Regions from separate parts of the Homo sapiens genome. Here region 2 is linked to region 1. Evidence: fine-mapped expression QTL. Tissue or cell type: whole blood. Region 1 holds a variant in brackets; the other region holds the start of a gene. All regions are shown on one strand. Distances are between the middles of the regions. Region 1 overlaps AKIRIN2 (akirin 2). Region 2 holds the start of AKIRIN2 (akirin 2).

Region 1 (5,379 bases):
CCCTTGTAGTACTGGAATTTAGTTGGAAGAATAAAACATTTACTTCTATTTTGCTTGTTTCTTAATGTACAGATGGGGTTAGTATTTGAATAAAGTTGGTGTTTTAAAACGTAAGCATTTTCCAGGAATCAGTGAAGTTAATTTTCTAAGATTTGAGTGCTGTTTCAAAACACTGAGTTCTGATTCTAAATGCCTTCTTCTGCTGGGCGCGGTGGCTCATGCCTGTAATCCCAGCACTTTGGGAGGCCGAGGCGGGAGGATCACGAGGTCAGGAGATCGAGACTATCCTGGCTAACACAGTGAAACCCCATCTCTACTAAAAAAAAAAAAATATATATATATATATATAAATTCCTTCTTCTGTAACTTACTGCCTGATAGAATGTTACAGGTATTTTAATTGCTATAGAATTACCTCAGATATCAGTAGGATCCAGTTTTTTCTTTTAAGAACTTGATATGCAAAAGCATGATTCAGCAAATTTGACTCCCTTTCCATACATGGTTTCTAGACATAGCTTTCTTATAATGAAGTAAGCAAAAACATGCTTCAGTGAATTCATTTGTTGAATTCTAGTAGCATATTTCCAAAATTTAAGACAATCTTAAATACACATTTATAACTGACCAAGTTAGAAGAAAAAGGAATTTTTTTTTTTTTTTTTTTTTTTGAGATAGAGTTTTGCTCTTGTTGCCCAAGCTGGAGTGCAGTGGCACGATCTCGGCTCACTGCAATCTCTGCCTCCCAGGTTCAAGCGATTCTCCTGCCTCAGCCTCCTGAGTTGCTGGCATTACAGGAATGTGCCACCACACCCGGCTAATTTTTTGTATTTTTAGTAGAGACAGGGTTTCACCATTTTGGCCAGGCTGGTCTCGAACTCCTGACCTCAGGTGATCTGCCCACCTCGGCCTTCCAAAATGCTGGCGTGAGCCACTGCGCCCAGCCAGACCTCTTTTATTTTTAGCTTTGGTAATTACATTTCACCAATTCTCTGTTTAAAACAAGCCTAGAAAGTGGTTTCACAAGGTGCCCAGGCAATTTATATGCCAATTAGTGGTTGAGAAACATTGGTATAGCACAGGGTAGCAATAAGGTGCATGATTCTATGCCCTTCCCCCCTACTTTTTTTTTTTGAGATGGAGTCTTGCTCTGTCACCAGGCTGGAGTGCAGTGCTGCCATCTCGGCTCACTGTAACCTCCGCCTCCCGGGTTCAAGTGATTCTCCTGCCTCAGCCTCCCGAGTAGCTGGGACTACCGGCATGCACCACCACGCCCAGCTAATTTTTGTATTTTTAGTAGAGACGGGGTTTCACCATGTTGGCCAGGATGGTCTCGATCTCTTGACCTCATGATCTGCCTGCCTCAGCCTCCCAAAGTGCTGTGATTACAGGCGTGAGCCACTGCGCCTGGCCAATTCTACCCCCTTTTAATGGTCTAGAACAGAGATTCTCAACTTCAGCACTACTGGCAGTTTGGGCCAGATCATTCTTTGTCGTGGTGGCTATTGCTGTGCATTATAGGATATTTAGCCACATCTCTGGCCTCTACCACTAGAGGCCAGTTAAACCCCCTCCCACAATTGTGATAACCAAAGTGTTTGCAGACATTGCCAAATGTCCCTGAGGGACAAAACAGTTCCCAGCTAAGAACCACTGGTTAGCAGGATAGCCTGTAGTCCCAGCTACTTGGGAGGCTGAAGCACGAGAATCGCTTGAACTCAGGAGGCAGAGGTTGCAGTGAGCTGAGATCATGCCACTGCACTCCAGTCTGGGTGACAGAGTGAGACTCTGTCTCAAAAAAAAAAAAAAAAAAAAAAAATTTTTTTTTTTTGCTCCACAGCCAAATTTCTGCATTATCACTTATGCAAAAGTCCTAGCTTATGGGCTACTCTGACTTTAGATGGGTCCGGTAGTTGATTAGTCCAAATAACCAACCACACATGATTTCAATAGATTATTTTAGCTACCTAGGGATTCTGAATTCCCCAAATCCCTGAAATTGCTTGTAATAAGTATCTACAGAATTGTGTTAATAGTCATCTTATTCTTCCAGTAAAAGGCAGTACTGATACAGTACTGTACTATGATGTGTTTAGTAAATCTTTAACAAGTGCACATAGGTATAAGCGTTTGTACTTTTGGAAAAATAGGCAATCTGAGAAAAATAAATATTGGAGGTTTAAACTACTAAAGCTGTCTTTGGCCTATGGCAAGCACTTGACACGACCCTAAAGAAAATGGTAGAAGGTTCTCAGGCTCTACCTATCCCCAGAGACTGCTTTAGACAATTGGTGGGAGGGGAGAACTTTTGGAATCTGTTTAATATGCTGCCTAGGTGATTTAAGCAGCTAGGGTTGGAAATGACTTGTTTTTGCCCTGTTTGGGTTCTCTTTACTCCTTTCAAACTCTTACAGTAATTGGTATTAAATGAATATTCTACAAAAGCACCCGAATAGTCTATGTCTACTCATGGATACATGGCTCCCACAATTCTCTTGCTCCTGCATTTGCCCCAGGTAAGGAGCACGAGATGCAAACCTATGTCTCAGGCAAAGATACAGCTCCAGCAGTCCTCTCCTCTCTCTACTGCATCTATTTTCTTTCTCTACTAAATCATTTCCAAAAGCATAATAAGCATGTTATTAAAAAATCTTTTGATCCTATATCCCTTGCTAGTGATTATTTTAGTGCTCCCCTTTATAAAAGCAAAACTCAGTTTTCTAAACTTCCTCCAGTTTATTACCCCTTCCTTTTTTTTCACCAACTTGTTTTATTAGGAAAAGAAATTCAAACAGAAAAGTTGACTTTCCCACTTAAAATACTTCCCTAATTTAACATCGAGTCCTTATTTCAGATTTTTCCATGTGTCTCTTTTTTAAATAGCTACCCTCATCCCCCAAACACGATTCAATTAAGATTCCTACTTTCTGGAAATACTAGGCCTGTTGTCTTGTTGAGTTTTTCTTTGTACTGTCATTAATTTTAACTTCTGATATCCCTTTGAACTTTCTGTAAACTGAAAGGTCTAAAGTTTTCGCAAGTTTCGGGTTAAACTTGT[TGTG/G]CAAGAGTGCAAGGTGATGCTATGGTCTCCATATTGCATCACAACAGTTACGGCTTTTCCAGGCTGTTAAGTTTGGACACTTGGTTAGGTCATCTGATAGGTGATTAGAGTTCGTCTCCTCTCTGTTACTCTTAGTAAAAGGCAGCAAAGATTTCCACATTGTTAAATCTAATCAGCAGCCAGCATTTGACCTTGAAGCACTCTTCAGTTGGCTTGCAAAATACTACACTTGCTTTGACGTTTCTCCTTTACTGGCTGCTCCTTCTCTGTCTTGCTGTTGGCCCAATCTTCATTTCCCTGCATTTTGCTAAAACATAGGTGTGCCCCCGAGCTTGACCTTGGGCTGCTTGCCTCCTCTCTTAGTACTCATCTTGGTGATCTCATCATAAGGACATCAGATTATATTAACGTCTTCATGTGACATCTTCAGTTAGGTATCTAGTAGACACCTCGAAATTTACGTCTAAAACTTACTTTTGCCTCTGAAATTTTTCCTCTCAGTCATCCTCAATCACTTAATGGCCACTCCATTCTTTGTTTCTAGGCAGAAATGGTCTTGCACTCCTCACATCCTTCATCTGATCTTAGTTCCACCTTAAAATATTAACATCTCTACTGCTATTACCCTAATCCAAGACACTATCATAGCTTGCTTGGATTATTTCTGTGGTTTCCTAACCGGTCTTTGTTTTGCCTCATTTTGTCTCCTCTCACCCATCCTATTCTACTCTCATAGCAACCAGACTGATCCTTTAAAAGTCTAAGTCTTGTTTAGATGGCTTCCTAAGTAAAAGTAAAACTTCACAAAGGTCTGTGGAGCCCTAAATTACCTGCACTCTACCCCACCTCATTCAATTCCTATTGAATTCCTCCTGCTCACTCTACCTTGTCCACATTGGCCACTTTTGCTGTTTTTCCAGCATAGGATTTTTGTTACTGCTAGTGTCTGCCTAGCATGCTCTTCTCCCACAAAACTTCATGGAAAATTTTTTCACCACTTTTGACTTTTTGCACAAACGTCATCTCAATGAAGCCTGCTCTGACCACTCTTTAAAATTGCAGCCTGACATCCTGGTGCTCTGCCCTGCTGCTTTCTTTGTTTTACTTCCTGTGCTAAACGCAGTGAAGGCAGGGTTCTTTGCTCACTGGCATACAGTGCCTGGCACATGGCACATGCTTGGTACTTTTTGAATGTATTTCACCCTACTTCGATTCAGGGTTTTCAGATCAGTATTTCATTAAATGAAAGATTTAGTAAGGCAGAATACTTCCTTTGTAAGATATTTTGGTAGAGGTTTCCTGAATTACAGAATGGACACAGAATTGAACTGGCATTTCATAGGCTGTCTTGAGGGTTTTGTGCTCCATTAATGATTACCACAAAGGAGCTTCATGTTTTAATTTTATAGCTCTTTTGTGTATTCATTGTGAAAATAGGGCAGTTTTCGACTGGGCACGGTGGTTCATGCCTGTAATCCCAGCACTTTGGGAAGCCTAGGTGGGTGGATCGCTTGAGCCCAGGAGTTCAAGACCAGCCTGGCCAACATGGCAAAACCCCATCTCTACTAAAAATACAAAAATTAGCTGGGCGTGGTGGCACACACCTGTGGTCCCAGCTACTTGGGAGGCCGAGGCAGGAGAATGGCTTGAACCCAGGAGGCAGAGGTTGCAGTGAGCCCAAATCGTGTCACTGCACTCTGGGTGACAGAGTGAAATTCTGTCTCGAAAAAGAAAATAGGGCAGTTGCCATCCTGCTACTTTCTTACATAATCTTTAGTGAGGAAAGTCAAAGTGGTTCAGGGCATGACATGCGTTTATGTTGGATAAATTCAACTTAGTGCCCAGCAGAGGAAAAGTAAGGCATGGCTACTTACTCTACTCAGTGAATCTGTGCCTTATATATGAATCTGCTGGTCTGTGTGAGGCCAGTTCCTCTGTACCTTACAGTGTAAAAAGCATCTTGCTGTATGAGTGTTGTTCAAAGTAATAGTTTCTAAACACTGACAATTTTATCTGGTGCTCATATGCATCATTTGAAACTACATTGTACGTAGTGATGGTGTCCTTGTATTGGAAGACCTTCCCTGTTGCCAACTTCCTTACCTTAAATAGATGGAAAAATCATTAAAATCACCTATTCTTTCCCTAGATTTGTACCAACCATTGTTTAAAAAATGAAACACATGGTTGGAGGCAAGACTAGAAGAAGAATGACTAGAATATTGCGAAAAAATATTGAGCTAATTGCTATGAAGGTAAATCATGGAATCTCAGTGACTTAACATGAGAAATTTATTCTTTGATCATATTCATTTGGT
Region 2 (5,379 bases), 30 kb before region 1:
TACAACAACACTTTGCTGACTGGGTGCAGTGGCTCGGCCTGTAATGCTAGTCTGTAATGCTAGCCTGTAATGCTAGTGGGAGGATCACTTGAGGCCAGGAGTTTGAGACCATCCTCGGCAACTTAGACCTCTGTCTCCACAATTAAACAAAAAAATACTTTCCTCATTTTCTAGGCATTCTGGTATATTTCAAATGATAGCCTGATAACCACAATCCTCTCTGTATTAGTTTCTTACAGTTGCCATAACAAAGTACCACAAACTGGATGGCTTAACCTACAGAAATTTATTGTCTCATGGTCTAGAGAATACAACTCTGAGAAGGTGTTTTCAGGGTTGGTTCCTTCTGAGGACTGAGGGAGAACAACTTCTCTCCTAGCTTCTGGTGTTTTGCTGGCAATCTTTGGCATTCCTTGGCTTGTAGAAGCATCACCCTAATCTCTATTTTCATGTTCATGTTCATGTGGGTCAAAATTCCCTTGGGCCCATGCCTGGGTTCAAATTCCCACCCCCACCCAGTCTCCCCTTCACCCTGGCCTTTTTTTCTTTTCTTTTTTTTTTTTTTTTTTTTGAGACAGGGTCTGGCTATGACACCCTGGCCGGAGTGTGGTGGTGTGATTACAGCTTACTGCAGCCTCAACCTTCTGGGCTCATGCAATCCTCTCACCTCAGCTGCCCCGAGTAGCTGGGACCACAGGTGACCACCACCATGCCTAGTTAATTTTTTAAAAATTTTTGTAGAGATGAGGTTTCTTATCATTGCCCAGGCTAGCCTCAAACTCCTGGCCTCAAGTGATCCTCCCACCTCGGCCTTCCAAAGTGCTGGGATTACAGGTGTGAGCCACCGCACCTGGCCCAAATTTCCTTTTTTGTATAAGAATACCAGTCATATTGGATTAGGGGCCCATCCTACTACATTTAGCTAATTACATTTGAAATAATCCTATTCCTAAGTAAAGTCATATTCTAAGGTACTGGAGGTTAGGACTTCATATGAATTTTGAAGTCCTTGAATTCCCTCAAACATAGGGAATTTAACTCACAACATCACATTTCAAATGTAGGTTTTATAACTTATGGGCAAATCTTAATTTCAGAAAATATTACCAAGTGTTTAGAATTTACTAGAAATTTACCTAGTAGGTGTCTTAGTTAAGCTGCTGTTTCATTAAATGCTTATCTTTTTCAAAAGATTTTCCAAATGTAGGAAATGTAGGATATTTCCAAATATCCTAAATTAAAACTAGAAGGGCTTACTTGTTGACACAGTGTGATCAGGACTGCTGATCTCTGAAGCACTGGACAATTCTATAAAATTGTCTATAAAAAAGAATATATTGAACTACTTCTAAATATGGTTTAAAAATAATAGACAAAATGGCTATAAAACATCTGTTACTGAATAAAGAAGAATACATGAGCACTGGAAATCAGTATTTATAATCATTTGACAGTTGGCATTCACAAAATTGTTTCATATTGCACTGGTGATAGTTTCTACATATATCACTTTTTTTTTTTTTTTTTTTTTTTGAGACGAAGTCTAGCTCTGTCACCCAGGCTGGAGTGCAGTAGCTTGATCTTGGCTCACTGCAACCTCCGCCTCCCGGGTTCAAGCGATTCTTCTGCCTCAGCCTCCTGAGTAGCTGGGACTATAGGTGTGCGCCACCACGCCCGGCTAATTTTTTTTATTTTTAGTAGAGACAGGGTATCACCATGTTGAACAGGCTGGTCTCGAACTCCTGACCTCGTGATCCGCCTGCCTCGGCCTCCCAGTGCTGGGATTACAGGCGTTAGCCACCGCGCCCGGCATCATTTTCTTTTCTTTTCATTTTTTTCAGACAGAGACTCGCTCTATCACCCAGGCTGGAGTGCAGTGGCAACATCTCGGCTCACTGCAACCTTCGCCTCCCGGGTTCAAATGATTCTCCTGTCTTAGCCTCCCGAGTAGCTGCGACTACAGGCGCGCGCCACCACGCTCGGCTAATTTTGTATTTTTAGTAGAGACGGGGTTTCACCATTTTGACCAGGCTGGTCTCGAACTCCTGACCTCAGGAAGATCCGCCTGCCTCGGCCTCCCAAAGTGCTGGGATAACAGGCGTGAGTCACCATGCCCGGCTACACAGATCACTTTCTAAATTAGCGCTGTATTTGATTCTTATTTTAGGTATGTGACTAAAAGTACAACTTCTAGAAACACTTTTTTCCCCTTCCGCTTACAAAATGGATCCATCCAATATCTATTACCTAAACATTTCACTGTCTTTTGATTAGTTTTGTAACAAAGTTCACAATATATGCACCAATATTCAACAGAAGTAATGCAATGTCTGATACCACTTGCTTTTTACCCAACGCAAAACAATTTGATTCTGTAAGTCGTTCAAGTCCTATTCATTTACAGAAGCAAAGCTGGCTTTACAGAATTTCATTAGTGGATGAAGCAGCTACCTCCGAAGGGTAGAGCATCGAGTTGAATCAAGGATCCTGTAACCTGATACTATTACTGTTGTTCTGTCTGCCAGTCCTAAATAGGTTTCATAATCTCATTATCTCCTATCCTCTCCATGTGAAAGGTCTTGTTTTGGGTACTGTCGCTACCGAAATTAAGCTAACTTTGACTAGAGATTGGTTTATTATATTTCCCAGATCTGAAATCACTGTGGGAGCAACTATACGGAGAATCTTAAAAGATTTCTATGTCGCTTAGCCTGCTTTTGCCACGGGTTCGCTTTCCCATCTCCCACTGTCTCAGAACCTTCTCTTTTTTTCTCTTTTGCTTAGTTCCTCTTACACTCAAGCTGTGTAGGGGGATTTAAATTCCAACCCGGAACTCGGAATCGCGCGCCTTGCATGACGGAAGTCGTAGTTTCTGTGACTCCTCCCTTCCCGCCTTTCAAGCCGATTCCTCCCGGTACCTAAAAACTACAACTCCCAAAATGCATCCCCGGTTTGGCCCGCCCCCGTGCGCAAGCGCTCTGAGGCCGCCGGATTTGAATCGGCGGCGTTGTTATTGACGCCATATTGGGGCCGGCGGCGGGTGGGAGAGTTCTACGAGGGAGGGGAAGCGGTTGGACGTGTTCGCTTGGGTTCCTGCTGCGGCAGCTACCTCGCAATCTCTCTGCATCGATCGCCGCTCGCAAGCTACTGACCGTACTCGGGCGTATTAGGAGCCGCGTTCCAGCCTCACACCCCACGGTGCTGTTTTCGACTTCAGAAAGGATCTAGTCTCAGCACAGAAGCGCCTCAGGCGCGGCGCAAAGCTCGAGCGGACGGCGGGGGCGGCCGGAGCCTCTCTCGGGGGAGCCGCGCCTGAGGAGGCGGAAGAACCCCCCTGACGCGACTGGCGTGTGCTTCTGCCCGCCACCGCCCCTCCCGCTCTCACCCGGGCCGTCCCTGGCCACTGCCCCTGCCGCGGAGGCAGCGGCGGCAGCGGCTCTCCTTTCCACAGCCGGCGCTCCGCGACCCGCTTGGCTCCTGAGCCCGTCGGGTAGGCTCTCCTCGAGTTCCCGCTCTTCACCCCTTCCCTCACCCTCTTCTTTCGTCACCCGTCCCCGACCCCACCCGAGCCCGGCGCCTCAGCTGCCCCCGGCCATGGCGTGCGGAGCCACTCTGAAAAGGACTCTGGATTTCGACCCGCTGTTGAGCCCGGCGTCCCCGAAGCGCAGGCGATGTGCGCCATTGTCGGCGCCCACCTCGGCCGCTGCCTCCCCGTTGTCGGCGGCCGCGGCCACCGCCGCCTCCTTCTCCGCTGCGGCCGCCTCGCCGCAGAAGTATCTCCGAATGGAGCCATCCCCCTTCGGCGACGTCTCCTCCCGCCTCACCACAGGTGGGACCCGGCCCCGCGGCCGCCGGGGTAGTGGAGAGAACTGGGAACAGGGGTCCTGGGGTGTGGGATGCGGCCCCTGGGGTGGGGGTGCCGGACTGTGTGGTTCTTGTTCTTAGCAAAGTAGTAGGGCAGCCACGTTTTTCACTAGGTCCTCGTAGCCCGAGGACCTAATAAGACACAATAGAAATGGGCTGATGTCAAGGGGATAGTGTTTGGAGGTGGGTAGGGGCTTTGCCTTGCCCGTATTGGGTAGAACAGGGACATCTTTTTCTTTGGGCCGAATGATTGGAATTGTTTCCGTAGTCGCTGGAGCCCCAGCGGAAATGATCAGAGAGGACGATATTATTCGTAAATTTAGGCGAAAGGGTCACATTTCACCCCAATCTGGATGTGTGCTTGCCGTAATCGATTGGTTGCAGCTATTAACTCTGGGACTGGGTGGTTTGAGGCGAGGCTACAGCCCCTCCTTCAGTTCAGACACGGCTGATTTTAGTATAGTGGGGGTGGGGGGTGGGGGATGGATGTCACTAGGGCGAGATCTAGGCCTGTCATTAATCACCCACAAGAACGCCACTTTGGCTGAGTCAAGACCTGTTTCCCTAGCAGGGTCAACAACAAAGAAAATGCTCTTCCCGAGTACTGTAATATGATCACACTATAAGTCTAGACCTTGAGAAATGTTGAACTTTTAATAAGCATATTGCATTGAAAATTGGGGCTGAGGAGTTGCTTTTATTTGGAAATGTTTTATTTTTGCCCAACAAAGTATGCTGGGGGAAAACAACCTAGCCTTGAGAATAATGAAGAAATCAACCCAAGATTCCAAGGGACTTCAGACTTTTGCTTTTCATCTTGAAACATTTCCTGAGAGAGACTGGGGAATGTCTTTTGGCTGCTTTGTAGGGCATGTGTATGCCCAGTTTTTTCTGTACTTTGAAATCCTTGTGTGCCCCTGGCACAATCCTAGGATAGGCTTTTGTGGACTAGAAGTGTAAATGTTTCCTTTGTGTGTAGCATGCAAAGATTTCTGTGTGAGCCTTTAGTAATAATATCACCCTTTAGACAAAGCCTTTCCATAGCTTGATTTAAATGTCTCGTTATCAGTAGCTTAAAAAACCGAAGTATATACCTCTGTATTTGGTGACTTCCATTTGAAACTGACTTTAGTGTTTTTTTTTTTTTGTCACATTTAAAAATATTTTCTAAATCCATGGAGTGACCCTCGAATATGCAAGCTACCATTTTTGCTATTAAATATTTGGTCTAATTTAAGGACATACTGTTTTAGAGTTGTAGTGAGTTTTTACGGAAATTCTTAGATAAATTTATTTAATGACCTTACTAAACTGTGTTTTAATTAGATTGAAAAGGCATTTGTTGATTAATTGTTAGGCTTTACTTTGGGAAAAAAAAAAGGAAACAGCCAATGTCAAGAATGAGCTACTGGTGGTTGACATTTTTGGAATTTGTCTTTTAGTGAAATGGTATCATTGGAAATTGAAATGGATTCTGTACTTAACTAATAAAGCCATTTCAAAATAAGGTCATTA

What was found. PIP is the estimated chance that this variant, and not a neighbour inherited with it, causes the effect.
Region 2: AKIRIN2 starts here. The variant in region 1 is fine-mapped to the expression of AKIRIN2 in whole blood (TOPMed, PIP above 0.99).

Annotation. Positions count from the first base shown.
Region 1 is chr6:87,669,595-87,674,973 of GRCh38, reverse strand. AKIRIN2 (akirin 2) reads left to right here. Exons shown (of 5, transcript NM_018064.4): 5 at 1-114. It also overlaps a transcript of ORC3 not described here. Among named protein-coding and RNA genes, the nearest start is that of AKIRIN2, 30 kb to the left of the region's middle. RefSeq lists a silencer at 2,216-2,416. The variant TGTG/G (reference allele first, on the strand shown) is at 3,059.
Region 2 is chr6:87,699,900-87,705,278 of GRCh38, reverse strand. AKIRIN2 (akirin 2) reads left to right here and starts at 3,046. Exons shown (of 5, transcript NM_018064.4): 1 at 3,046-3,829. The coding sequence starts at 3,595. RefSeq lists enhancers at 2,475-2,784, 3,095-3,154 and silencers at 3,315-3,484, 3,665-3,874.